2 linked regions of the Homo sapiens genome follow. The protein of the gene in region 1 interacts with the protein of each later gene in a pairwise test. Each region holds a gene or a part of one and is shown in the gene's direction. Other genes may lie near its edges. The genes, in order: DKK4 and ITGAM.

Region 1 (12,174 bases):
GAGCAACTTGGAGGCCATGGCAGATGCCAGCCCAATCTCCCAGAACACTGGTGTGTAAAAGGCCCTCAAGACCAGAAGGAACTGAGGCTGAGTGTGACATGACCTGCCAGAGGCTATACCGTCTGCAAAAGTGGCTGGCACCAGCCACCCTGGCATCCCCCCTGTGCTGTCCCTGGGTGCTGCCCTTCACTCCCCAGCCTTGTGGAGGGCTGGCCTTACCTTCTGACCTCAGGGAACCAAATGGCAACATTTCTGTCATCTCTGTGATCACATCCTGCGGTTTGTCTGCCCGCCCCATCAACATGCCCCTTCTCATCTTTTATTTGATGGAATATTTCCTGTGAGATTCTGCCAAAGACCTGCTTGCTTCCGTTACTTTGATTTTGTTTTAAGGAAAGCAAAACTTATGGAAATCAAACTGGTTTTGACACAGGAGGCATAACAAATAAAAATTTCCATTCCCGAGTGAGTATAAATAATCGGTTCTGACACCCAGCCTTTGACGTGAACCACAGCAGCTGTCACGCGGGAGGACACAGGTGGCAGGTCTCAAACACGAGTCTGCAATTTTTACCCAAAGAGTGGAATCAGTGCAGAAACTGGGACCTCTGGAAATTTTTTTTTGAGAAATTTCATTTCCTCTAAGCTTAGTCAGTATTACTCGATTTTAGTGTTCCCATGAGCTAGGCGCTCACTGCAAAACTTGAAGCATCAGCCTGAAATTTTCCAGTTAACCCATAATCCTTGCCAGGGGGCATCAGTATGGCAGCACCTTGGCCAGAACTTCGCACGACGGCTTCCTTTGTTCTGTGGCTAAAGGAGTGTCTTGTGGTGCCACTTTTCAAAAGACAGCCACGGCTCCAGGTGCCGCTCAGGAGGCCTTGTGGAGTGAATTCTGTGAGGTCATTGCTGCTGTGGCCTGTGTCGTGAAACTTGTGGTCTGACCTAAGAGCAAAGAGGATGCCCTTTAAGCAGAAACATTTTTTAAGTTTTCCTCTCCACACCTGCTTCACCGTGCATCCTCTCCCCACTGCCCCATCATCTCTAGTCCCCAAATCATGGAGATGCGGGCTCCTGGCAGTAGACGCTGCCACAGGGGGGCATCTCATTTCAGTTGTTGGCATTCTCGCTGAGGGACACTGTGCAGGCAAGCAGCCTTGGGAAATCTGAAAATATACCAAATGTCATGTTCCCAAAACTACTTCACATACCTACTTTCCTCCAAAATTGCTCTGGCTTTTTAGAGACCGTAACCCTAGTCTTATTGCAAAATGAGGCCTCAGATTAAGGGAGGTTTTTCTTTGATGAGTTGTATCGAACACATGTCCATTGACAGCCTGCTAAGGCACTAAAGTCTATGGAAGATGGAAAGTTCTGGCCTGGAAAATGGATGAGAGGCATTTGTTTAGAGGTTTTTTTGTCGTGTTTTTGTTTTTGTTTTTTAGATGGAGTCTTGCTCTGTCGCCCAGGCTGGAGTGCAGTAGTGTAGTCTTGGCTCACTGCAACCTCTGCCTCCTGGGCTCAAGCAATTCTCCTGCCTCAGCCTCCCAAGTAACTGGGATTACAGGTGTGTGCCATCATGCCCAGCTAATTTTTGTATTTTAGTAGAGATGGAGTTTCACCATGTTGGCCAGGTTGGTCTTGAACTCCTGATCTCAAGTGATCCACCCTCCTCAGCCTCCCAAAGTGCTTGGATTACAGGCGTGAGCCACCGCGCCTGGCTCGAGCTCATGGTCTAGTTGTAGAGACAAAGAAGTAGGCAATTGCAGTGGGGTTTTAGAAGCGCTGTGACAGGCTGGCGTATGCACAGATCAGGGCAGACAGGGGAGAGGAGGCCCAGCTGGTAATAGAGTCAGGCCCGGCCCCAAAGCCCACATTCTGTCAGTGCTGAGACAGAGACAGAGATGGACAGACACAGACAGGCACAGGGTCGCTCTTCAGTGTTGTTCACCCCCTGTTGGTGATCCTCTGGCATCTGGTGCTTGCACCCACTCCTCTCTGTCTCTCAGAGGCAAAACGGAGAGCCTGGTTCGTGGAAGACACAATGGCTACTCTTATATCTCCACAGTAGATATCCTGCAAACAGTTGATTGTGCGGACAGCTTTTCTCAAGGCACCCTCTTATCCTGCTCCCCCAACCTGATTTTCATCCTGAATTCTCTGTCTCTAGGCCCACCTCTACCCACCCAGTGCACCAAATCAGAGAAGGCAGGATCATCCCAGCTCCTCCTCCCCTCCCTCCCCACTCCCACATCCAGTGATGCAGCTCGAACTTCAGACTCCCATCCTTTGCTTGGTTCCCATTGTCACTGTGTCACTGCCTCAAATTGGACCTCTTCATTGTCATCGGGGCAATGACAACTGAGTCCTAAGTGGCCCCCAACCTCCCCTCTCTCCCAGTGCAACCTAAGCACCATACTGCCACCAGCATTGTGCCCTGAAAGCAAATTAGATCACACCAGTGTCTTTCTTTTTCTTTCTCTTTCTTTCGTTTGTTCGTTCTTTCCTTCTTTCTTTTTCTTTCTTTCTCTCATTTTCTTTCTCTTTCTCTCTCTTTCTTTCTCCTTCCTTTCTCTCTCCTTCCTTTTTTCATTTATTTTTTCCTCCCTTCCTTCCTTCCTTCCTTCCTTCCTTTTCTTTTTCTTTCTTCCTTTCTCTCACATTCTTCCTCTTTCTCTCTCTCTCTCTCTCTTTCCACTCTCTCCTTCCTTCCTTTTTTCCTCCCTTCCTCCCTCCCTTTTTTCTTTTCTTTTCTTTTCTTTCTCTTTCTTCCTTTCTTCCTTCCTTTCTCTCACTTTCTTTCCTCTTTCTTTCTTTCTCTTTTTCTTTCTCCTTCCCTTCTCTCTCCTTCCTTCCTTTCGTTTGTCTTCCTTTCATTTTTTCTTCCTTCCTTCCTTTCACCCTTCCTTCCTCTCTTTTTTCTTTTCTTTTCTTCCTTCCTTTCTCTCTCTCTCTCCCCCTCCCTCCCTCTCTCCTTCCCTCCCTTCCTTCCTTCCTCTCTCTCTTCTTCTTTCCCTTCTTTCTTTTCTTTCTTTTTTCCTTCCTTCCTTTCTTTCTTTCTCTGTCTCTCTTTCTCTCTTTCCCTCCCTCCCTCCCTTCCTTCTTGTTGGTGGGAGGACAGGGTCTCGCTCTGTCACCCAGGCTTGAGTGCAGGGATAGGATCATGCAGCCTTGACCTCCTAGGCTCAAGCAATCCTCTTGCCTCAGCCTCCTGAATAGCTAGGACTGCAGACACGTGCCACCACACCAGGGTAATTTTTGTATTTTTCGTAGAGATGGGTTCTTGTTATGTTGCCCAGGCTGCTCTTGAACTCCTGGCTTCAAGTGATCCTCCCATCTCACCTTCCCAAGTAACAGAGACTACAGGCAAGTGCTGGCATGCCCAGGTTTTTTATTTTTTGTGGAGACAGGGTCTTGCTATGTTGTTCAGGCTGCTCCCTGGCCTCAAGTGGTCCTCTTGCTTTATCCTCCTCACGAAGTGCTGGGTACAAGCATGAGCCACTGCACCCAGCGGATCATGGCATTCTCAGTCTGATATATCTCCAATGACTTTACATTGTGCAGAGAATAGAATCTGATTTTCTTAGCATGGCATATCAGGGTCTGCATCTTGCTTCATCTCATCCTTCCATCATCTGCCGCAGCCACACAATCTCTCACTAGCACCTGAGTGCACCTCCTCCCTCTTGCACACACCTCACCCTCTGAGCCCAGGTGAGGATATCTCCGACTTCCCAACTTAGGAAGCCCCTATGCAACCAACAAAATTCAGCTCAAATATTACCTCATCTGTAAACACATTCCTTTATTTCTCTAGAAAGTCTAAATCATGCCTTCGTCTGTATTTATATCTTCATAAGTCCTCCACCCTTATATTTATACCTTTATTTTAGTGCTTGTCATAATACATTGAAATCATCCATATGTACATGTCTTCTATCTGGATCTCTCTCTCTCTCTGTGTCACCCAGGCTCTGTCATCCATACATACAAGTTTTCTGTCTGAATCTTTCTCTCTCTCTCTCTCTCTCTCTCTCTCTCTCTCTCTCTCTCTCTCTCTATATATATATATATATATATATATATAGGCTTAATCTCCTGGGCTTAAATGATTCTCCCACCTCAGCTTCCTGAGTTGCTGAAACTACAGGTGAACACCACTATGACTGGCTAATTTTTTTTTTTTTTGAGATGGAGTCTCACTCTGTTGCCGAGGCTGGAGTGCAGTGGCACCGTGTTGGCTCACTGCAACCTCGGTCTCCTAGGTTCAAACAATTCTCCTGCCTCAGCCTCCCGAGTAGCTGGGATTACAGGTGACCACCACCACGCCCGACTAGTTTTTATATTTTTAGTAGAGACAGGGTTTCACCATATTGGCCAGGCTGGTCTCGAACTCCTGACCTCAGGTGATCCATCCACCTCAGCCTCCCAAAGTGGTGAGATTACAGGCGTCAGCCACCGCACGCGGCCTACTTTTTTTTTTTTTTTTTTTTTTGTGGAGACAGGATCTCAATATGTTGCCCAGGCTCGTCTTGAACTCCTGAGCTCAGGAGATCTTCCCACCTTGGCCTCCCAAAGTGCTGGGATTACAGGTGTGAGCCACTGTGCCCGGCCATTGGAGTTTCAAATTTTATTCCTAACATGTAATCCGAGGCTCTGTTCCATGCCAAGTGCTCTAAGTGCTCAGTGGCTGTTTGTGCCGTGTTACAGGAGTTCCCGTCAGTTCTTTCGCCTGTGTATATTGCCAGGGGCCTTTGGTAACCTGAAATTCCCTTACAGTGAGGCAGCAGGAAGCAGAGAAACCCGGCAGAGACAGAACCCTGGGGGCTCTTTCCTTTATCCTTGGTCATAATTGTACAACTTGAAAATAAATTCTGTAACACCCCTAGTCACCAGGGTTATCATGCTATCAAAGGGTGTTGTTTGATGTCAGTTTAAGGGATTAAAACAAGTAACTTCCATACGAGAGGTAGACAAGCAATACCAACCCAAGGACAAGGGCCAAGTAGTAGGAAGGCTCGAATCACCTGCATCACCCTCGGAATGGCACTGCATTACTCAAAATTGAGAATGTTCCCATGCACAGAATGCTGAGATTCATGTCAATGAATTGATGTTAGGTTGTTCTGCAGGAAAATGTAGTAAATAATAAGATTATCATTTATGGCATAGAAAAAATGCATTTTAGATGACTCTATGCTAAGAGCAATGAAACAATGAAGAGAAAAAATGATTTTTTGATCCAGATCTAGATTGTTCTACCCTTAAAGTATTTAAGACAGTGATAAGCACATGTCTAAATTACCTGACTAATAGTCCAAATGGAAAAAAATCAGACAGGAAAGGGATGAAGCAGAAGTTTTAAAAAATTCGTATTAGGAAAATTGGAAATACATGAAATTTCATCTGAAATCAGCCAGAGACTTGGATCCTTGTTCTGCTTAAGTGAGTTTTACATAATGCAACACAAATTAAATATGTTGCTGATAAAATGGACCCAAAGCTTCGTACTGAATTGTGTAAAATGCGCTATCATTGTTCCCACCATTGAAAAATGGGATTTTCATAAATTACATTATTTTCCTAATAACCCTAACTTCAAACAGTTCAATTTTCATTTAAAGGAAAGTAATTTCCCAAATGGCATTTAGTCAGAACAGGTGCTGTTACGTTCACAACTTTTAAGCGGTTGGGATTTTGACATCTGGATGCCAGAGCTAATCAGGGGGCGTTTTCTCTTTTTCTATCTGTCCTCACTATCTGAAGCCCAGTTTACAGCTTCTCAGTGTATTTTGTACCTCATTAGTTTTTGGCATCCTCTATAGCATATTGGCCAGTATGATTCATCCTTTCTTTGAGCACAATTAGCTGTGAAAACAGATCTTAGGGCAGACTCCCTCCCTACCCCCAAAGGATTACTGAAGGTAGGAAATGCAGGTGATTATCAGAGTTTGCCTTTGATACAGACATCCTGCTCTGCCGTGGCCCTTTGAACTAACTTTGATATGCAATAATTAAGAGGGATTGAACCCCTGGAGGAGAAGCCGCATGGCCCTGCCTCTTCTCTCCTTCTATTGAGTCCTTGTTTTGAACTATTGATCAAACAGATTTGAAGGGATTTGTTGAAGCCTGTGTGGGGCAGGAGGAAGGAACGGAGCGGGGAGGAGGCACATCTGGTTATAAATAGTTTCAGGAGGAACCTGCTGGTCAGACTTTGCTCAGCCGATTTCACGCACCTTACTCAGACTAAGGTTTACTTCTTTCAGAAAAAGCAGTGACAAACAGACGACGTGCTGAGCTGCCAGCTTAGTGGAAGCTCTGCTCTGGGTGGAGAGCAGCCTCGCTTTGGTGACGCACAGTGCTGGGACCCTCCAGGAGCCCCGGGATTGAAGGATGGTGGCGGCCGTCCTGCTGGGGCTGAGCTGGCTCTGCTCTCCCCTGGGAGCTCTGGTCCTGGACTTCAACAACATCAGGAGCTCTGCTGACCTGCATGGGGCCCGGAAGGTAAGGCTGCTAGGGAGGGGGGCGAGGTACGGGACTGCTGACAGCTGGGGTGTTTTGTTTAGGCTTTAGTAAGTCATTCTGATTCATGTATGAAATGTCTTACCTAGCAGGTAAATTGAATTGGTTTCGGATTTGGGAGGGCATCCTGGTAGGATCAGTGGCCTTAGTGTGAATGTATGAAATAAACACAGTGGCTTTTCACATCATTCGGCCATACGTTTGTCTATAAATCACGAAATAAACGAACACTTTGGAAGCTCTACTATGTGCCAGCTCTTTTACATGTAATACGTCATGTACTCTTCCTCACAATTTGAGATAGGTGAAACATTCCCTAATTCCAGATGAGGAAATAAGACTCAGAGATGTTGAAGAGCTTACCCAAGCTCACACAGCCAGCAAGCAAACATGGGAATGAGAATTTAAACAGAGGGCCATGATGCATTGCCTTGTCACCATCTAACTTCACAGAGAGAGTTGTTTTAGGAATCGCTTTATGTATGTGTATATGTTATTATATATCGTATAGATTATTACATATATCATATATGCTACACCTACGTTGTATGTCTATGTAGAAGCATCAACTGTGTATGAGAACAATTGATCTTCGGTATCTCTTTCTCTATGTCAATGAGGCATCATTGAAAATCAAAGGACAGTTCACTTAGGGAAGGGTCTCTAAGCTAAATGTGATTCACTAGAGTAAAAAATCAAATAGGAATGCCACAAACATCAATAGTATGTTTAATGAAACTGTAGCCAGCTTCTAGAGTTAAGATATATTGAAAATCTCATACTCACCTGTTAAGACACACATAGGAAAACATTTTTTCCCATTTTCACAAAGAGCACAGGAAAACTAAATTCTGAGTTAAGTCAATTTTTCAAACTCAAATAGCCTTTGCAGCGCCTAGGTCTCCCCGGGTGACATGAGCTTCCCTTTGTGGGAGAAAACCATTTCCACTGGAGAGTAAGATGCTGCCCAGGGTTTGTCACAGCGCCACTGTCCTTTGGCTCCCTCCGCCTCCTGCCTTCAATAATAAGTCATCTTCCATCGTGTTGGGGGTTTCCTAGCCTTGTGATAACAGATTCCCTCCACAGGGCTCACAGTGCCTGTCTGACACGGACTGCAATACCAGAAAGTTCTGCCTCCAGCCCCGCGATGAGAAGCCGTTCTGTGCTACATGTCGTGGGTTGCGGAGGAGGTGCCAGCGAGATGCCATGTGCTGCCCTGGGACACTCTGTGTGAACGGTGAGCGACATAACGCCAACAGTGGTTTTTAAACCGAAGGTAGTGTCTAAGCCCCATAGACTAGAATATTCCAGGGTAGGCACTCTCTAATGGTGCTTCCTAGATTCATGCTTGAAGTAAATGTATGCAGCTGCCTTTTCTTTTCCTTTTTTTTTTTTTTCTGAGGCGGAGTTTCGCCCTTGTTGTCCACAGCTCACTGCAGCCTCGGCCTCCGGGTTCAGGTGGTTCTCCTGCCTCAGCCTCTGGAGTAACTAGGACTACAGGCATGTACCACCATGCCCGGCTAATTTTTGTTATTTTTAGTAGAGATAGGGTTTCACCATGTTGGTCAGGCTAGTCTCGAACTTCTGACCTCAGGTGATCCACCTACCTCGGCCTCCCAAAGTGCTGGGATTACAAGCGTAAGCCACCGGACCCGGCTTGCCTTTTCTTAATGAAACAAAATAATTTATTTCCTGGCAACAGCTCTTGCCAATGACTTGGAGATAATGATTTTAAAGGAAAGACTCAAGTTGTAATCATTCAAATACTTCCATTTCCACTTGGATACCATTAACTACCTTTAATGGAATGCAATTTCCACTTAGCTACTTTCTCTGCCACATGCGAGCATGTAAATATTTAGCACATGTTCCAGAAATCTAGAAAGTTATATATAAACTGAAGGCAGAGGTGCTGCCAAACTATGCAACAGTAGGATAATTAGTGTGTCTGTGGTTCTCCCCCTTGAAGTTAATAATTCTAGTTACACCTGGTTGTCCCTCAGATGTTTGTACTACGATGGAAGATGCAACCCCAATATTAGAAAGGCAGCTTGATGAGCAAGATGGCACACATGCAGAAGGAACAACTGGGCACCCAGTCCAGGAAAACCAACCCAAAAGGAAGCCAAGTATTAAGAAATCACAAGGCAGGAAGGGTAAGAACAGCATTCGCAGCATATTTTATTTCAGAAATGCATTTTCTCCTCCCAGCCTCTTAAGGATAGGGTGAGACTGATTTTATTCTTCTCCATCCCAGAAACACTTAGGAAGCATGTGCTGTTTGTTATCTCTTTCTGTAAGAAGCTGTGGGGGTCACGTAGAGAGTAGCCTAAGGTAGTCTGCAGCCAGTAACAACGATCAATTCTGATGGGTAGGGGTGGAGTCGCCATGGCATTACTGCTTTTAGCGTAACACCTAGCTCTGTGAGACCTGCGTGCTGTGTCTGTTTTTACTTTGTGGCTGTCAGTCATAGGTCCCATTCCCTTATCCCAGTAGCAAACCCCCAGCAGGCCACTTTCCTTATTTATCACTAAAGCCCACATTAACCTTGTTACAGGACAAGAGGGAGAAAGTTGTCTGAGAACTTTTGACTGTGGCCCTGGACTTTGCTGTGCTCGTCATTTTTGGACGAAAATTTGTAAGCCAGTCCTTTTGGAGGGACAGGTCTGCTCCAGAAGAGGGCATAAAGACACTGCTCAAGCTCCAGAAATCTTCCAGCGTTGCGACTGTGGCCCTGGACTACTGTGTCGAAGCCAATTGACCAGCAATCGGCAGCATGCTCGATTAAGAGTATGCCAAAAAATAGAAAAGCTATAAATATTTCAAAATAAAGAAGAATCCACATTGCATTTGAGCTCAATCTTGGACATTAACTTTAAAATGCTTCCATACAGATCTCTCTTAAAATCAAATCTTGTAGCAAGTGAAATAGCCTGAAACTAGAGAACTAAGAGATGGCGACCTTGTGATGAATGAAACTAGCTTTAGCCTTTTGTCCGTTTTTCCAGAAAACTGATGGGACTCTGTAACCAAAAAAATTATTTCTAATCTAGGGACTCAATTAATTCAAATCTTTAAGAATTGAAGCCAGGCATGGTGGCTCACGCCTGTAATCCCAGCACTTTGGGAGGCAGAGGTGGGTGGATCACGAGGTCAAGAGTTTGAGACCAGACTGGCCAACACTGTAAAACCCTGTCTCTACTAAAAAATACAAAAAATTAGCTGGGCATGGTGGCAGATGTCTGTAATCCCAGCTACTCGGGAGGCTGAGGCAGAAGAATTGCTTGAACCCGGGAGGCGGAGGTTGCAATGAGCCAAGATCGCACCATTGCACTCCAGCCCGGGTGACAGTACGAGACTCGGTCTCAAAACAACAACAACAACAACAACAACAACAACAACAAAGAATTGAAATTGTATATATTTAAAGTGTACTGTGTGAGTTTTGAAATACATATACTATAACCGAGCCACATCTCTCTCTCCAAATAAATCTTTAAACAATTTCTGGTGAAGGGTTGGTGCCTGACAGTATCCTAGGGGGTAAAAAATGATAGCATCTGAAGTTAAAAGTAAATTAATTCTTACATCTTACCAGGAAAATTATCACAGCAAATACTATATTTTTCCTTAATAACTCTATTGTTTATTTCCATTCATTTCTTAGAAGGGAAATGGCATTTCACTACAAAATAATTTGGTTAATAAAGAAGTTTCAAGATATCTTATGTTTGTATAGTCCTTTGCAAGTTATAAAGCATTTTCACGTTTTCAGTAGCTTTACTTACCATTTGATAACTTTGTATATTTTATATTTATATAATTTTAATATTTGAAAGGCAGGGCTTTCAAGGAGTGTTTTTACTTACACATTTTGACCACTTGTGCTTAAAAGCCCAGAGGAGAACTCGGGCAAAAAAGTGAAATTTTTGTTTGTTTGAAGTTTAAAAGGGCTGTATTTTGTGCATAGAAGTGGTTGTGCTTAGGGGAGCTCTTTCTAGTGGATTTCAAGCAAGTGCTACAGATTTAAGAGATAAATCATACACCTGTTTTTCTATTCAGGTTATAAGTTTATATTACAAGATTCAATGATATGGTTTGGACGTTTATCCCCTCCGTATCTCATGCTTGAAATGTGACCTCCAGTATTGGAGGTGGGGCCTGGTGGGAGGTGACTGGACCATGGGGGCGGATTCCTCCTGAATGGCTCAGCACCATCCCCTTGGTGATGAGTGAGTTCTGTTAGTTGACACAAGATCTGGTTGTTTAAAAGTGTGGCACCTCCTCTCTCTCTCTCGCTCCTGCTTTCACCATGTGAAGTGCCTGCTCCCACTTCATCTCCCAGCATGAGTAAAACCTTCCTGAGGCCTCCCAAGAAGCTTAGCAGATGCCAGTGCCATGCTTCCTATACAGTCAGCAGAACCATGAGCCAATTAAACCTTTTTCCTTCATAAACTACCCAGTCTCCAGTATTCTTTTAGAGCAATGCAAGAATGGACTGACACAATCAAATATGGGCCCAACAAAAAACTAAATTTATGAAGGTCCCTAGTTTATTTTTTTGAGATGGAGTCTCACTCTGTCGCCCAGACTAGAGTACACTGGTGTGATCTTGCCTCACTGCAACCTCCGCCTCCCGGGTTCAAGCAATTTTCCCACCTCAGCCTCCTAAGTAGCTGGGATTACAGGCATATGCCACCACCCTCAGCTAATTTTTGTATTTTTGGTAGAGACAGGGTTTCACCATGTTGGCCAGGCTGGTCTCCAACCGCTGACCTCAGGCGACCCACCTGCCCCAGCCTCCCAAAGTACTGGGATTACAGACATGAACCACCGTGCCCCGCCCCCCCCCAGTTTCTAGAAAATATTGAACAGTCTTCCAGAGGCTAGTCTCTGGGTGTACCTTAATTAACAATTTTTGATCAGTAAGTAGGGGTAATGTGGTTTATAGCATAGAGCAGAATATGAGAAAATAAAAATTCCCATTAAAGATCTGCTATCATCTCATATTTCTCTCTACAAAACCCATAGTAAAGTATGATCATGAACACAATATGAAAATTTAAACTAAACATACTTGCTAAGAAAATAAGATCATCATCATCCAATAATAGTACATGAGGTTTTATTGACTACATTGCAAGCAAAAGCATGAAGAAGAAACAATCATTTAAAAACACCAAAGACCCTTACATAGCAAAGGTTAAGAAATAAATTAAGACTCCTATTGGGTTGTGTCTGCCAGGGAGGATACAGGCCTCATTCGCTCCGGTCCTTGGGTTCCCGGTATTTCCACTGGATGTAATCAAAGATGTCTTTTTCACTATCCACTGGCAGGGGTTCTCCTGCAACTCCTGCAAGTACAGAGAGAAAAACTTATTGTAAGAACCAGTTTTATAGTTTAGTTATAGAGGGTTCAAGATTAAGAGCTGTGTGGGACTTGCTTTCAGAAGAAAAAAGAAAATGGTAACCAAGTCACTAAAAAAAAAAAGACCGGCGGATGTGGTAGCTCACGCCTGTAATCCCAGCAATTTGGGAGGCCGAGGCAGGTAGATCACCTGAGGTCAGGAGTTTGAGACCAGCCTGACCAACATGGAGAAACCCCATCTCTACTAAAAATACAAAATTAGCCAGGCGTGGTAGCTCATGCCT
Region 2 (11,400 bases), on another chromosome or scaffold:
CTGAGCCACCACACCCAGCCATTGCTTTCTTTTAAATTATTATTAGTTTTTGTTTTTTTTTTGTATTTAATTTTGAGATAGGATCTCTCTCTGTTGCTCAGGCTGGAGTGCAGTGGCACAATCAGGGCTCAAGTGATCCTCCTGCCTCAGCCCTCCAAAGTGCTAGGACTACAGCCCCTAACTGGCATGCTACTTTCCTCTGCTTGATCCTTCCCCCATTCTCCCTTTAGCCTTGACCTTATGTCATGGGTTCAACTTGGACACTGAAAACGCAATGACCTTCCAAGAGAACGCAAGGGGCTTCGGGCAGAGCGTGGTCCAGCTTCAGGGATCCAGGTGAGACCCTTAGATGGAGCCCCCTTTCTCAGTGCTTTCTCTCCAAGACTTACATACCTGAAAAAAATCAGCGATTTGAGTGATCTTTTTCAACAGATAAATCAATTCAAAATATACAACAAATTCATCTTTTGAATTTACAGTATTCTAAATTCAAAAGATGCAAAAGGGTGTAAGAGTAAAAATCTCTTCCTTACTCCCTTCCCCTAGTTCCCTTCCCAGGAGGGACCTCACAAATGGTTTCCTGGGTGTTCCTTCGGGGAGACTCTGTGTGTGCATAACACATACACGTTCCCTCCCTCAGCCAACACACCATGTGTAGTATACATTGTACTGAAATTAAGGCCTGCCTGCAGGCTGCCGCCTATTTTTGTGAATGAATTTTATTGAAAACAACTCCGTCCACTTGTCTCTTACTGTTTATTGCCCTTCCCTCCCTTCCTCCCTTCCTTCCTTCCTTCCTTCTTTCCTTCCTTCCTTCCTCCCTCTCTCATTCCCTGCTTCCCTCTTTCCCTCCTTCCCTCCCTTCCCTCCCTTCCATCCTTCCTTCCTTCCTTCCTTCCTTCCTTCCTTCCTTCCTTCCTTCCTTCCTTCCTTCCTTCCTTCATTTCTTTCTTTCCTTTCTGACATGGTCTTGTTCTGTCATTCAGCCTGGAGTGCACAGGTGAAATCATAGCTCACTGTAGACTCAAACTCCTGGGCTCAAGCAATCCTCCCACCTTAGCCTCCTGAGTAGCTGGGACTACAGGCATGTGCCACCACACCTGGCTAATTTTTTGATTTTTTTTGTATAGACGAGGTCTCACTCTGTTGCCCAATCTGGTCTCAAACTCCTGGCCTCAAGTCATCCTCTTGCTTGGGCCTCCCAACTTGCTGGGATGATAGGTGTAAACCACTGTGCCTGGCTATGGCCACTTTTGAGCTGTAATGGCAGAATTCAGGAGCTGTGATAGAGATTGTATGGACCCTGAAGCCTAAAACATTTACCTTTACAGAAACAGTAATTGTGGAGGTGATAGTACCTTTCCAGAAGAAGGGGGCTGGTCTCTGCTCTTTGCTTTATCTCCCATAATACAGCCCAGTGATTTGAGTCCATTAATCCCATGTTATGCTTGCATTGCATGCCATAATTGGGAGATGCTATAATTTATTTTATTTTATTTTTTTAGAGACTCCCTCTGTCGCCCAGGCTGGAGTGCAGTGGCATGATCTTGGCTCACTGCGACTTCTGCCTCCTGGGTTCAATCGATTCTCCTGCCTCAGCCTCCTGAGTAGCTTGGATTGCAGGTGCCTGCCACCACGCCTGGCTAATTTTTGTATTTTTGTAGAGACAGGGTTTCACCATGTTGGCCAGGTTGGTCTTGAACTCCTGAGCTCAGGTGATCCACCTGCCTCGGCCTCCCAAAGTGCTGGGATTACAGGCTTGAGCCACCGTGCCTGGCTTGTAATCTCCTTTTACATTACATTAGATCTCTTGTTAATGAACATTTAGATTGTTCCCAAACTTTTGCTCTATGAACAATGCTGTCATTTTGCACATGTGCAAGCCTATTTGGAAGTAAAGGCTAGGACTGGGATTGTGGTATCCACGGGTGCATGAGCACGTGCAATTTTAATAGATTTTTCCAGATCCCCCTCTACAGTGGTGGCAGCAATTTACACTCACACCAGAAATTCATGAAAATACCTACTTCCTCATACTCCCTCACTCATTTGCCAACTCAGTGTGCTATCAAACTTACTGATCTCTGCAGATCGAGTAGGTGAGAAGTGGTATCTTAATTTAGCTTTAAATTGCTTCTTTTTTTTTTATGAGAGAGGCATTTTCTGTGAACATGTTTTTCTTATCTGTTGGCCATTTTTCTTTCTTTTTTTTTTTTTTTACTAGTTTGTACAAGCTTTGAGTACACTGAGGAAAGTAGTCTGGGGTATGAGTTGTGAAGCTCTCTCCCTTGTGTATTATTTTTCTTTTGAGTATGCTTATGGTAGTTTATCACATACAAAAATTTATTTATTTATTTATTTATTTATTTATTTATTTATTTATTTATTTATTGAGATGGAGTCTCGCTTTGTCGTCCAGGCTGGAGTGCAGTGGAGTGATCTCGGCTCACTGCAACCTCTGCCTCCTGGGTTCAAGCGATTCTCCTGCCTCAGCCTCCCGAGTAGCTGGGACTACAGGTGCGTGCCACCACGCCTGGCTAATTTTTTTGTATTTTTAGTAGAGATGGGGTTTCACCATGTTAGCCAGGATGTTCTCGATTTCCTGACCTCGTGATCCACTTGCCTCGGCCTCCCAAAGTGCAGGGATTACAGGTGTGAGCCACTGCGCCTGGCCCAGAAATTTATTGAAAATGACTGTGTGGAGGCTGGGTGCAGGGGCTCACGCCTGTAATCCCAGCATTTTGGGAGGCCGAGCTGGGCTGGTCGCTGGAAGCCAGGAGTTCGAGACTACCCTGGCCAACATAAGGAAACCTCATCTCTACTAAAAATACACAAATTAGCCAAGCATGGTGGCACACACCTGTAATCCCAGCTACTCAGGAGGTTGAGACAGGAGGAATGCTTGAACCTGGGAGGCAGAGGTTGCAGCAGTGAGCCGAGATTGCACCACTATACTCCAGCCTGGGTGATGGAGTGAGAATCTGTTTCAAAGAAAGAAAATAAATAAAAATAAAAATAAATAAAATGACTGTGTGGGCCGGGTCCAGTGGCTCATGCCTGTAATTCTAACACTTTGGGAGACTGAGGTGGAAGGATTGTTTGAGCCCAGGAGGCAGAGGTTGCAGTGAGCTATGATTATGCCACTGGACTCCATCTTGGGCAACAGGGTGAGACCCTGTCTCAAAGAAAAAAAAAAAATGGTTGGCCTGGGACTACAGGTGTGTACCACCATACCTGGCTAATTTTTAAAAACATTTTTTGTAGAGATGGGGTCTGGCTATGTTACCCGGGCTAGTTTCAAACTCCTGGCCTCAAATGATGCTCCTGCCTCAACCTCCCAAGGTGCTGGGATTAAAGGCATGAGCCATGGTGCCCAGCTTGAATTGACCTATTTTTATTTTTAAAATTTATTCATTTATTTTTTGGGACAGAGTCTTGCCCTGTCTCTCAGGCTGGAGTGCAGTGGTGCTATCTCGGCTCACTGCAACCTCTGCCTCCTGGGTTCAAGCAATTCTCTTGCCTCAGCCTCCCATTTAGCTGGGATTACAGGTACGCACCACCACGTGTGGCTAATTTTTTGTATTTTTAGTAGAGGCGGGGTTTCACCATGTTGCCCAGGCTGATCTTGAACTCCTGAGCTCAGGCAATCCACCCCCTTGGCCTCCCAAAGTGCTAGGATTACAAGCATGAGCCACCGCGCCTGGTCCTATTTTTAAATGACTTCTGGTTTTTGTGTCATTCTTAGGAAGACCTTTTCTCATTCTGAGTCTTAACATTTTCCCATTTTTTTCTTTGCTAATTCTTCCTCCTAGTCATAGGAATTTAGGAATCCGGGTATGGGCCCCCACCGTCCTCTGGGTGGCAGAACTTCCTCTGTGGTCTCCTTCTCTCCCCACATGTCGAAGTTTTCTCTGTTCCCACTTCTCCCCACAGGGTGGTGGTTGGAGCCCCCCAGGAGATAGTGGCTGCCAACCAAAGGGGCAGCCTCTACCAGTGCGACTACAGCACAGGCTCATGCGAGCCCATCCGCCTGCAGGGTGAGTCACTGCCCCGCCGGGCTGGGACTGGGATTCCCCTGTGAACACATAGGGACTTTCCAGGCACTCCTGTGTCCTGGGGATCTGTGGTGGGGACACAGGTGCCTGCCTCCGTACCCTCTCCTCTGCCTGCAGTCTCTACCCTAGACATCCCCAGGCAACCCCTCTGTGTTCCTTTCTTTCCCAAGATTTAGGATCCCCCTTCACCGTCAGACCTCCTTGTCTCCCGCATGGAGGTGACCCCTGCCCAGCTCTTCCACAGCCTTCTCTGTCCCCCCACCAGGGTGACCATGCCCATATCTGTCCCCGCAGTCCCCGTGGAGGCCGTGAACATGTCCCTGGGCCTGTCCCTGGCAGCCACCACCAGCCCCCCTCAGCTGCTGGTGAGTGGGGCTCGATCAGAGGAGCATCCTAATGGGGGTGTTTGGGGGCCCACGCATGGTGGGGCTGGGGGTCTTGTGGAGGGTGGAGGTGCTGGGGTACAAGGACAGGAAGCAGGGGCAGCCCCTTCCACTGGCTCCTGTCCCCTAGGCCTGTGGTCCCACCGTGCACCAGACTTGCAGTGAGAACACGTATGTGAAAGGGCTCTGCTTCCTGTTTGGATCCAACCTACGGCAGCAGCCCCAGAAGTTCCCAGAGGCCCTCCGAGGTGGGTTGCCTTTGGCAGAGGGAACAGATGCGCAGCAAAAGACCAGGGGAGGGGGCAGGACTGAGGTGACGTCTGCTCAAGGTCTGGGCTCTGGGTGCAGAAGAGTGGGGGAACTGGGTCCCATTAGAGTCAGAAGCTAGGGAGGTGCTAGGGTCTTGTACTTTAGGAAAACGCCTTGGCTAGGCACAGTGGCTCATACCTGCAATCCCAAAGCTTTGGGAGCCCAGGAGCTTGAGATCAGCCTGGGCAATGTAGTGAGATCCTGTCTCTAAAAAAAAAAAAAAAAAAAATTAGCTGAGTGTGGTGATGAGCACCTGTAGTCTTAGCTATTTGGAGGCCAAGGTGGGAAGATTGCTTGAGGCCACAAGTTCAAGGCAAGCCTGGGCAACATAGGGAGATCCCCGTCTCTACAAAAAAAAAAAAAAATTAGCCAGGCGTGGTGGCACACACCTGCAGTCCCAGCTACTCAGGAGGATCACTTGAGCCTGGGAAGTTGAAGCTGCAGCAAGTTATGATTGCACCACTGTACTCCAACCTGGGTGACAGAGCAAGACCCTGTCTTTAAAAAATAAGTCCAGGTCACACTGCAGAGGAGGGGATGGTGCAAGGTGTCATTGGCAAGAGGTGGGAATCTTGGGGACCATCCTGGGGGGCGGCCTTCCACACCCCTGTTCCCCAAACCTCTGTTGATTGAGATTCTGAGTGACTGTATGGATTTTTTTTTTTTTTTTTTTTTTTGAGGCAGAGTCTCGCTCTGTCACCCAGGCTGGAGTGCAGTGGCACGATCTTGGCTTACTGCAACCTCTGCCTCCCAGGTTCAAGCGATTCTCCTGCCCCATCTTCCCAAGTAGCTGGGATTACAGGTGCCCGCCACCACACCCGGCTAATTTTTGTATTTTTAGCAGAGACGGGGTTTCACCATGTTGGCCAGGCTGGTCTCGAACTCCTGAGCTCTGGTGATCTGCCCACCTTGGCTTCCCAAAGTGCTGGGAATGAGCCAGGGAATGAGTGGGGGGCATGAGCCACCATGCCTGGCCAGAGTGCGTGGATCTTTCAAGCTGCTTTTTCCCACTGCTTTGTTCGATGGCTATGCCATCTTTTTGCTTGTCTTCATGTTGATTCTGGGACCACAGGCGAATGTTTCTCCCTTGCATTTTTTTTCTTTCTCAAGCCCTGTTCCTCTATATTTCACCCTCCACAGTTAATCCTCCTTCCTCCACAGAGAAAACAAAAGCTTCAGGCATGGACTCCCTCCACTTTCCCCTTCTCTTATTTTATCTTAATAAGCGGTTTTCCAGTCTTCACTGGAATTTGTTGACAAATTCTAAAGGAGCTGTAACACCGCACTTTCTCCTTTTTCTCAAATTTCCATAATGACAGCACTCCTGGCAGTGACTCACTCGTTTTAGAGGAAGACCTGTCTCTCCTCTGTCCCATGACTAAATTCTTCCATATGGGCTTTTGAGAGTCTCTCATGCACCAACTAAGGTGATCACCTATCTTTCTTTTTTCTTTTTTTTTTGGAGACAGGGTCTTGCTCTGTCACCTAAGCTGGAGTGCAGTGGCACAATCTCGGCTCACTGCAGCCTCTGCCTCCTGTGCTCAAGAAATTCTTGTGCCTCCGCCTCCAGAGTAGCTGGGATCACAGGTGCGCATATACTGATTTTTGTATTTTTTGTAGAGATGGGGTTTCACCTTGTTGCCCAGGCTGGTCTCGAATTCCTGGGCTCAAGAGATCTTCCCACCTCAGCCTCCCACAGTGCTGGGATCACAGGTGTGAGCCACTGCGCCTGGCCCAGCATCTCTTGAATCACTTGTTTTCTCTCTAGGACAATTAACTTCCCCCTTCCTCTGGCTGTAAACACTCTTCATTCTATCTGTATCTGAAAAGCAATCAACCACCACAATCGATAGCCATGAAAACAATCTTCTCTCTTCCAGTCTCCTCCTCATCTCCTGCCATCTCTCCTCACCCTCACCACCCAAGCTTCCTGAGTGCATTCTCTTCACCCCCGGCTGGCCTCCAGCTTCCCTCTCCACCTAGGGGCACTGGGTTCTGGGTTCTCTTTTCACCCACGTGTTCTTCTTTCCTGAAATCACCCAGTTCTGTGGCTTCAGCTAACACTTCTACCTCTCCCTCTTTAGACCTCACTCTCAGGGTTCAAGACTACTTCTTTAAAAAAGTTTTCATTTATTAAAAAATATATAATACATACACTTGGTTCAAAATTCGAAAGGGTGCGGTAGCTCACACCTGTAATTCCAGCACTTTGGGAGGTCAAGGCAGGAGGATTGTTTGAGGCCAGGAGTTTGGGACCAGCCTAGACAACATAATGAGACCCCATCTCTACAAAAAATGCAATTAGCCAGGCATGGTGGCGTGTGCCTGTGGTCTTAGCTATTCAGGAGGCCTCCCAAAGTGCTGGGGTTACAGGCATGAGCCACTGTGCCCTGCCAGTCTTTCTAAAATACAAAACAAATCATCTCACTTCCTTTTCTAAGAACCTTCTGTGGCTCCCCATTGCCTACAGATAAAGTCGAGCTCCTTATTGGAGTAGAAAGGCCCTTGCCCGCTGCTCTTTGCTTGATGCCACCGCTGTGTCTCCATCGCCGTCACATACGTTTGTCCCTGTAGTGCTGTTTCCATCAAACGGCATTCCTGGATTCTGCCAGAATCCTTTTGAGGCCCTTGTCCCATATATCAGTAGGAGTCTCAACTGGGACCAAAAGCACATTCCAGTAATGTAACTGCCCAAGGGGTTCACCTTGCTTGCTGCCTAGACAGAGCCGATTCATCAAGACAGCAGAATTGCGATAGAGAAAGAATAATTCACACAGAGCCAGCTATGCAGGGGACCAGAGTTTTATTATCACTCGAATCAGTCTCCTCGAGCATTTGGGGGCAGAGTTTTTGAGGATAACTTGGTAGGTCGCGGGGGAAGCCAGTGAGCTGGGAGTGCTGATTGATCAGGGATGAAATCATCGGGAGTCGGAGCTGTCTTCTTGCGTTCAGTTGGTTCCTGGGTGGGGGCAGCAAGATCGGATGAACCAGTTTATTGATCTGGGCAGTGCCAGCTGATCCATCAAGTGCAAGGTCTGCAAAATATCTCAAGCACTGATTTTAGGAGCAGTTTAGGGAGGGTCAGAATCTTGTAGCCTCCAGCTGCATGACTCCTAAATCATAATTTCTCATCTTGTGGCTAACGTTAGTCCTACAAAGGCAATCTAGTCCCCAGGTAAGAAGGAGGTCTGCTTTGGGAAAGGGCTGTTACGATCTTTGTTTAAACTATAAACTATAAACTATAAACTAAGTGTCTCCCAAAGTTAGCTCAGCCTACACCCAGGAATGAACACGGACAGCTTGGAGGTTAGAAGCAAGATGGAATCAGTTAAGTTAGATCTCTTTCACTGTCTCAGTCATAATTTTGCAAAGGCGGTTTCAGTAAGATTTATTTACAAAGAGGGGGGTTTATTTATAAAGGGAGTAATTATAAAGCTGTGACAGGCCTAAGGGAGCCATCAGGGACTTTCCAAGCCCTGGGCAAGCAGGTCTGTTGCCACCCCTGGGTTTATGGGTTGAGGAGAGGGAGAGCTCACCAGGGTCTGGAGAGAGTCATGTGGAGCTGGCTTCCTTCTGAGGAACAGTTGGTCTTTTGTGAAGGACATAGCTGTCCCCAAACAACCTCAATGGGAGAACACCCGGACCTCACTGCCCTCCTCCCTCTAGTCTTCTGTTGAGCCCCCTCATCTGCCAAATCCAATGGGAATCCAGAGGGCAACAGAGTCCTGGTGATGGGGTCCCTGCAGGTTGACCTCCCAGGCCACAGAGCTGAGCGGCAATGGGTAGAAAGTGGATTTGGGGATGGGGCAGAAGGCAGAGGAGCACATTCCACATCACTTTATATGTGTGTGCCCTTCCCTTTTCTAGAATCTACTCCTTTTGTATATCTGGCAAATCCTTCCTTCCTTCCTTCCTTCCTTCCTCCTTTGCTTTCCTTTCCTTTCCTTTCCTTTCCTTTCCTTTCCTTTCCTTTCCTTTCCTTTTTTTCTTCCTTTCTTCCTTTTCTTCGAAGTCTTGCTCTGTGACCCAGGCTGGAGTGCAGTGGTGCGATCTCAGCTACTTTTTGTATTTTTAATAGAGATAGGGTTTCACCATGTCAGCCAGGCTGGTCTCAAACTCCTGATCTCAAGTGATCCACCTGCCTCAGCCTCCCAAAGTGCTGGGATTACAGGTGTGAGCCACCTCGCCCAGCTGGGCAAATTATTTCCTGTTCTTCAAGATTCAGTCAAACATCACCACATTCCCTGATTCCCTTGGGCAGAATTAACGAAAATTTTCCATACCACTTTGTCCTTGTTTATTTACTTATTTATTTATTTTTAAGAGACAGGGTCTTTCTCTGTGGCCCAGGCTGGAGTGCAATGGCGTGATCATAGCTCACTGAAGCCTCAACCTTTTGGGCTGAAGTGATCCCCCACCCTCAGCCTCCTGAGTAGCTGGGACTACAGGCATGTGCCAACATGCCTGACTAATTTTTAACGTGTGTGTGTGTATATATATATATATATATATATATATATATATATATATATATATGTTTTTAACGTGTGTATACATATATATATATACACACACGTTAAAAATTATATATATATTATACATAATTTATATATATATTTAACATCTATATTTTTTATAGAGACGGGGTCCTATATTCTCATTGTTCAGCAGAGGGCTGACATGCAAAAAAACCCAAAACACCAAGTGTCAAATTACTTGATTCATACTCTTTTCCCCTTCCCCAGGGTGTCCTCAAGAGGATAGTGACATTGCCTTCTTGATTGATGGCTCTGGTAGCATCATCCCACATGACTTTCGGCGGATGAAGGAGTTTGTCTCAACTGTGATGGAGCAATTAAAAAAGTCCAAAACCTTGGTGAGGGCCCAGGGGTAGGTTAGGGAAGAGCCCACACGGGGCTGGAAGATACATGGCAACCGGGCCACCATGTTCTCCTCCCAGTTCAACTGCAGACATTGCCAAATTGACGATCGATTATGGTTTGCCTTCCTGAGTCTCTTTTCTGCTCTGTTGGATGCAGCCTCAGCATTCTTTCAGCCTTTTATAAAGCGGGCAGCTCTAATTGTTAAGGTTGGCATGGGAGATGAAGCCCACGTGTCATTGCTGGCTGAGTTCTATTTTCATTTTTATTTCTTATTTTTTTGAGACAGAATCTCACTCTTTCTCTCAGGCTGGAGTGCAGTGGTGTGATCTTGGCTCACTGCAACCTCCGCCTCCCGGGTTCAAGCAATTCTCTTGCCTCAGCCTCCCGAGTAGCGGGGATTACAGGCGCATGCCACCATGCCTGGCTAGTTTTTGTATTTTTAGTAGAGACGGGGTTTCACCATTTTGGCCAGGCTGGTCTCAAACTCCTGACCTCAGGTGATCCACCCGCCTCGGCTTCCCAAAGTGCTGGGATTACAGGTGTGAGCCACTGCTCCCGGCCGCTGGCCGTGTTCTAGTATTGAGGAGAGATGGGAGCTGCTGGCAGCTCTCCGTCCTGGTGAGGCAGGGGATTAGGGGCAGCACAGAGGAGGAATTTGGAGAGTGGAGTGTTTAAGATCTTCGTGGAGCTTGCTGGGAGATGTCTGAGGGGTGGGGGCACCTTCTCCAGCATCACACCAGCCGCCCCCTCCGCAGTTCTCTTTGATGCAGTACTCTGAAGAATTCCGGATTCACTTTACCTTCAAAGAGTTCCAGAACAACCCTAACCCAAGATCACTGGTGAAGCCAATAACGCAGCTGCTTGGGCGGACACACACGGCCACGGGCATCCGCAAAGTGGTGTAAGCTTCCCCTTTTCCCTTAGGATGGAGGGAGGAGGAGACACTTTTAGCTGGGCTTTGATGGATGAAGGGAGCCGTTCAGACAGGGGTGGTAGAGGATGCTTCCCCACCGGCAGAGGTGGGGAGGCTGTGCGTGGTGTGTTCATCAAAGGACAAGTTGTGAGTGAAAGGTGGGAGTGGAGTGGGGAAGTGAGGGAAAGGTGTCTGGAGGGAAGCTACAAAGATCAGCTCAGGCCAGGGAGCCAAAGGCAGCTTTACAGCCTGTGGTGAGATATCGCCATGTCTCATTTTGGGAAGTTCACTCTGATTTTGAGGTGGGTGTAGAGGCAAGGATGGGGTTGGGACAGAAGTACAAGAAGCACTGGAGAGTCCTAGAGGGGCTGGGGAGCTGGTGCAGTGCTCTGGGAGAGGTTTCCTGAAGGCCAATTAACTATATATATATATATATATATATATATATATATATATATATTTTTTTTTTTTTTTTTTTTTTTTTTTTTTTTTTTTTTGAGACAGAGTCTCACTCTGTCACCCAGGCTGGAATGCAGTGGCCTGATCTCGGCTCACTGCAACCTCCACCTCCTGGGTTCAAGCAATTCTCCTGCCTCAGCCTCCTGAGTAGCTGGGATTACATGCGTCCATCACCACCATCAGCTAATTTTTGTATTTTTAGTAGAGACAGGGTTTCACCATGTTGACCAGGCTGGTCTTGAACTCCTGACCTCAGGTGATTCACCTGACTTGGCTTCCCATAGTGCTGGGATTACAAGTGTCAGCCATAAATATATATATTTTTAAAATTCAAAAGTAATAATACTCAGTTAAAAAACCCAAATTATGCGAAAGTATAAAAACAAAAACCGTGAAGG

The links.
Region 2: the proteins of DKK4 (region 1) and ITGAM interact in binary tests that used the Homo sapiens proteins (3 or more experiments, as listed by UniProt).

Annotation. Positions count from the first base shown.
Region 1 is NC_000008.11:42,371,265-42,383,438, reverse strand, and holds DKK4 (dickkopf-related protein 4 precursor), read left to right. Parts: upstream 1-6,209; 5' UTR 6,210-6,393; coding exon 6,394-6,504; intron 6,505-7,608; coding exon 7,609-7,759; intron 7,760-8,525; coding exon 8,526-8,678; intron 8,679-9,079; coding exon 9,080-9,339; 3' UTR 9,340-9,376; downstream 9,377-12,174. Other genes in the region: POLB (DNA polymerase beta), read right to left, coding at 11,782-11,876. UniProt on the Homo sapiens protein: Antagonizes canonical Wnt signaling by inhibiting LRP5/6 interaction with Wnt and by forming a ternary complex with the transmembrane protein KREMEN that promotes internalization of LRP5/6.
Region 2 is NC_000016.10:31,261,462-31,272,861, forward strand, and holds part of ITGAM (integrin alpha-M isoform 2 precursor), read left to right. Parts: intron 1-230; coding exon 231-336; intron 337-3,933; coding exon 3,934-4,037; intron 4,038-4,320; coding exon of another isoform or gene 4,321-4,349; coding exon 4,350-4,420; intron 4,421-4,568; coding exon 4,569-4,686; intron 4,687-9,492; coding exon 9,493-9,623; intron 9,624-10,385; coding exon 10,386-10,531; intron 10,532-11,400.